2 separate regions of the Homo sapiens genome follow, and region 2 is linked to region 1. The links come from fine-mapping of genetic effects on gene expression. A gene starts in region 1. The other region holds a variant in brackets. All regions are shown on one strand. Distances are from middle to middle. Region 1 holds the start of PRUNE1 (prune exopolyphosphatase 1). Region 2 holds the start of BNIPL (BCL2 interacting protein like).

The links.
Region 2: its variant is fine-mapped to the expression of PRUNE1 in whole blood (INTERVAL, PIP 0.98).

The regions. Positions count from the first base shown.
Region 1 is chr1:151,006,966-151,009,764 of GRCh38, reverse strand. It overlaps PRUNE1 (prune exopolyphosphatase 1), which reads right to left and starts at 1,316. Exons shown (of 8, transcript NM_021222.3): 1 at 1,094-1,316. The coding sequence starts at 1,132. It also overlaps a transcript of MINDY1 not described here. RefSeq lists enhancers at 677-726, 382-922, 923-1,465.
Region 2 is chr1:151,035,001-151,037,799 of GRCh38, reverse strand. PRUNE1 (prune exopolyphosphatase 1) reads right to left here. Exons shown (of 8, transcript NM_021222.3): 8 at 2,087-2,799. It overlaps BNIPL (BCL2 interacting protein like), which reads right to left and starts at 1,214. Exons shown (of 10, transcript NM_138278.4): 1 at 1,034-1,214; 2 at 138-233. The coding sequence starts at 1,074. The variant T/C (reference allele first, on the strand shown) is at 1,424.

The sequences.
Region 1 (2,799 bases):
TTGGTGTTAAAATGGACCTTCTCCCCAATTCAATATGAAGACAATTCATTTATTCCAGCAGCTGAGTCTGCAGCAGGAATTAGTGACTTTCAGGATTTGTTAAAGACCAGAATCTGTCCCTCAGGGGAATTTGTAGAGTTTAAGATATCTAAAAAGGAAAGCTCAGCAAGCCATCTATCTAGGTTTCTTCAGGGCAGTATAACTCAAAGTAGAGGGGCCGGGTGACCTCCTGGAGCCTGTCTCTGGTTAGCTTTTTGCTGCTAACTGGGGATAACAGCCTAATGCCTCATGACGGCTCAGCATGGCTGGGTGAGTCCAACTGAGTCAGAGAGCACCAAAAATAAGCCACAAAGCATTGAGTAGTCATATTTATGGTTTTGATTCCAAACACACTTTGTGCTTATCCCTTCCAAGTGGAGAATTTTTATGTCATTTGTGTGCGTTAAGGCCAAAGGAGAAACCTGGAGGCAAAGGAATGCTGGTTGTGGGTCAACAAATATGCCTGATGGATTTTGTATGTTTGGCTTAAAAACACTGACTTAAAGTAAAATACTGTGACTACTTCTAACCTAGAAATGAGTTCAGCCCGCCAGACAGAAACTGCCATTCGGAGGAAATAAGGCCGTGAGCACCGGTTCCCTCCACACCCCCGAGGTTCACCTGGAGGCCAGTGGGCCAAGCGAAGCCTTGGGAGCGGAGAACTCAAAGAGGGGCGGGGAGAAAAGAATAAACACACCTCGCGGGGCTAGGCTGGCGGCGGCACAGTCCTGGTTTTTTTGATGGAACTGACCAAGATGACAGCAAGCAGAGGCTCAAATGCAGGATTCAGACCCAAGACTTCTCCCCGCTCTCAGGCGGACCCCAAAGGCGGGGAGCCAAAAACCGGGAGACTGAACAAGCAGCATTCTCACGCTCCTAAACTGGCTTCTCGCTCCTCGCTCCTCATGCCCCAAAACTGATCAGGCCCCAACCCCCCTCCCCACAACTCAGTGTTCCCTCCACACGGACCGTCGAGGCTCCCCCAGATCCCACGTCTTCGTCCTTCCTGGACCCCGTGCTCCATTCCTTACAGTCACAGACAGGGATTCGTTACCTGCAGAGCAGCTCGACAACCCTGCAGGTAGTCCTCCATGATGAAGCCCAAAGTACGCCGTCGCCCCTGGTCGAGTAGAGGTGCCCCTGGTCGAGGAGAGGTTTCCCCGACGAATGCAGCCCGCCCGGGACTCAGGGACTAGAGGCCAGAGTCAGGAGGCGGGACTCGAACCCGCCACACGGCGAATCGGCCTCCGACCCCGGGAGGAACTGCGTAAGCGGGCGCTCCGGAGTCCGGCGTCGCCCCGCCCCCAGCGGCGGAGGCGGGGCTCTACGCCCAGAGGCTCCTGGGACGTCTTTCCGGCGAGGCCAAGGGGGCGTGGCGTGGGGCGACGTGGGAAACGTAGTCCCGCAACTCCGCAATGTCCCTAGCAACCGAGGGAAGGATTGTTTTCTGAGGGATCAGTCGTTCGGTAAACAAATGTGTATGTGTCACAGTAACCCATTATTGTGGCATCTGAACTTTCCCTCTCAGATCAGGCCAAGTATAACATCTTTACATATATCACACCGAGCATCTGGTGACATTTTAAATGACACTTGGCAAAACAGATCATCTTCTTTCTACAAATTCTGCCCTTTACCAAACTGACTCAGTCGCCACCAATTTTGTGGTTGTTCATGTTAGGAGAACATTAGAATAATCTTTGACCCCTCTTGTTAACACCTACAGTCTCCTGCCAACTCCTGCTGCTTCTCCCTTTGCAACTCTGTAGCCTGTTTTTTTCTACAGCCTCGGCAAATATCTTCTTCCTTTCTTGGACGGTTGTAACCTTGGCTTTTTGCTCTCTGCCACCCTAATTGTTCCAATTGCTCTTTCAGCCTTTAGAGTTGCTTGAAATTTCATCCTGTGGCGGCCCTGTACATAGAGTTTAGGGAACCCTTCAGAATGTGGAGTTAGGTTCCAACCTCCCTTAACTGCCACTTTCCAGCCGCAGAGTAGTGCAGGTACTGCAAATAAATGGACACTCATCATCAAAAATTCCCTCATTTATTTATCTATCCCTTTATTTCCTACCGTCAGCCTCACACCAGCTTTTCCTGCTTCCCCAGCTGTAAATCGAGAGGAGGTGACTGATGAGAGGCCTGCAGTGGAACCAAGATCCAGAGCACAGGCGTGTTGGATCTCCTGCCTGCTCTGCCAGTTCTTTTCTTCTTCTTCTTCTTTTTGAGACGGAGTCTTGCTCCGTCTTCAGGCTGGAGTGCAGTGGCAGGATCTTGGCTCACTGCAACCTCCACCTCCCGGGTTCAAGCGATTCTCCTGCCTCAGCCTCCCGAGTAGCTGGGACTACAGGCATGTGCCACCATGCCCTGCTAATTTTTGTATTTTTAGTAGAGATGGGGTTTCACTATGTTGGCCAGGTTGGTCTTGATCTCTTGACCTTGTGATCCGCCCGCCTTGGCTTCCCAAAGTGCTGGGATTACAGGCGTCAGCCATCGCGCCCAGAGCCTGGGGCTTCTACCACACCCTCTGCACTCTACCAGGTGCACAACCCAACCAGTTTCATTTCTAGACTTAAAAATGATACAGCAAGGACTTGGAAAGGAGCTCTCTGGAGGGCTCCAGAGGGAAAAGAGCTGGGTTTGTTTGTTTGTTTTTAACATTAATTGAGTAATACATGCAAATATCGTGCTCTTTGCTCCTGCTTCTGTGGATCCAGAGCAAAGGACTGCCATACCCAGAGAGAGAGCCCAGATCCAACAAGC
Region 2 (2,799 bases), 28 kb before region 1:
CAAACTCCTGACCTCAGGTGATCCACCCGCCTCGGCCACCCAAAGTGCTGGGATTACAGCCATGAGCCGCCGCGCCATCCCCTCCGTCCATTCGTGACCACCCCTCCCTTCTCCCAGCCACCCTCACACGTCCTCACCTAGGGAATTCTTCATCCTGCCATTCCTCCTTCAGCTCCAACTCCCCATGTCTCAGGGCTGCTCCTAGTTCTGGTGCTTCTGCAATCTCCCTGACCCTAAGACAGCCCCCAAGAAGAAAAGATCAAGGGAACTGAATAGTAGGTAAGAATAATTGAAATGAAGAACAGTAATTGAGATACAGAGCAGAGGATAGGCCTTCAAAAGGACTCAGATCTCTTGCCTCCTATACAGATGCTTCTCTTACCTTCACCACTTGCTAGAAGCAGATTACCTGCTGTTAAGTTTGGGAGCAGACGAAAGATGGAATGTAAAGTTAATCATATTTACCTCTGTAGCAGTTGCTCCACCTACAAAGTTGGGGTGAGAGATGTCCCACATTACAAGTGGCTGGAACCCAGCTAGACCCACCCAGCTATCATTGAGCAAAGTCGGGAAGACGGTACCTAGTTAGGCCTGCCTTTCCTCCACCGAGCTGGGGAGTGGCTAAGGGAAAACATGGCATAAGTGGAGGGGTGGAGGAAGAAGGTAAGGAGAAAGATTTGCCAGAACGAGAACCTGGACCTAAACTCGGTTCTGGTTCAGCTTTCCTGATGGCCATTCTGGAGGGTGAGGGTTAGAAAATAAAAGAACACAGGCAGATTTATCAGGTACAACATATTACAGAAACTTCCTTTATTTTTAAACCAGGGAATTATCCTGGAATCCTGTTCCCCAGTTCCATACCATACTGACATTTCCTACCTAAAACCACCCTCATCTCTTCTCTGCAAACTCTCTTACAGTCTTGTCTCCTTGAGGAACCCGAGATTTGACCCAGTAAGAGCTGGGTGGTGGGGAAGTCTCTCCGGACTGTTTATTCACTGTTACCAATCAAGTGAGCCAAGATCTTACTTACCCAACATCTGTCTTTTTTCCTGCCTCTTGTATAGTTCCCATCTTCACAAGTCTTCCTGCCTCCTTCTTTAAACACCTAGGAGTTGTTGGGGAGCTGGTTGTCCCAGCCCCCAACACTTCCTTACCTCTTTTCTGTCTCAGCTGTTGTAGCTCTTGCCTCCAAGGAGGGAGGTGTGGAAGGGAGGTAACCTCATCTTCAAAACAGGTTTTGCCACTCCTCTCCCCAGGAGCAGGTTTGCCCAAAAGAAAAACCCTGCCTCCTGTGAGGGGGCGGGTTTTGGGGAGGAGAGTGCATTTTCTAGTGGGGGCCAGTCTCGGTTGAGTCTAGGAAGGCAATTTGTTCTCCTTTCCAGACTCCATATATCCCTCTCAAAGTTGCTCTTTACACAAA[T/C]AAGCAAAAAAACCAGTAGAAACCGTTGTGTTTCTGGCCGGGCGTGGTGGCTCACACCTGTAATCCCAACACTTTGGGAGGCCAAGGCAGGCGGATCACCTGAGGTCGGGAGTTTGAGACCAGCCTGACCAATGTGGAGAAACCCCATCTCTACTAAAAATCCAAAAAAAAAAAAAAAAAAAAAAAAAAAAAAAAATTATCTGGGCGTGGTGACACATGCCTATAATCCCAGCTACTTGGGAGGCTGAGGCAGGAGAATCGCTTGAACCTGGGAGGCAGAGGTTGTAGTGGGCTGAGATTGTGCCATTGCACTCCAGCCAGGGCAAAAAGAGCAAAACTCCATCTCAAAAAAAAAAAAAAAAAGAAAAAGAAACCATTGTGTGTGTTTCTAGGACTGTTATCTTGGATCTACTTTTCAAGCATAAGGAAAACTGGGGAAACGGAAGTATGTTATAAGGAGGTTTCTGGGAGAATAAACAAGTTGAACGGGAGGCTGAGGATGAGGGGAGACAGAAGCCTGTTGCTCCTTATTCCCAAAAAGAGTCAACAGAAAGAAGACATTAAGTATAGTAGGAAGAAGGGGGATCAATTTTGAGGAGACTGAAACAACTATCACAGAGAAAGGCCTGAATACACTTGTAAAAAAAGACAGTAAGACCCCCAAACAGGAAAAAATTATTTAATAGTATAACAAAATGCAAAATAAAGTACCCAAGTTACAAAACATAAATTCCTTTGGTTCATGATCACACCACTATTTTTACCTTCCACATAGCTACAGACATCACACCCTCAAAGTGAAGTCAAACTGTCCCCCTCATACTGAAGATGTCATGCCAAAACCATCACATACCCCACTGTTCAGTGAAACTGTTGGCAACTTACATGGAACAGAGCTGTGGGGTAGGAAAAAGGGGAAAGGGTTGCGTTAAAAAAAATGGGGAGACTCTACACATGCAGAACAAGTTAGTGGGAGGGAGTGCTCTGCTGGGTCAACACGCCATGAACCACACCCCTATTCGTGCTACATGAGGCTGAGTCCTTGCTACAACCACACAGAAATACAGACAATCAAGTGAACCTGAGCACCCCCAGGGATAACAGAAGAAAAATACAGAGAAGCAGAGGAGAGAAAGAATGGCAGCAAGAGGCAGATCACAGAATACCAGGGAACACCTAGTCCAAACCCTGTTTTACAGATGGGGAAAGTGAGACCTGGAGTAGTGAAGTGTCTTGCCAAAATACATAGTTTATGGGAGCATTAGAACTCCATGCTTCCTTTTAATGTGAGCAAGGAAAAAAAGAGATTGACAAGAAATTGATAGGCCTGCTAAGGCAGGAGACAGACCCAGGCCTCTCATTCCAGTTCTGTTGTC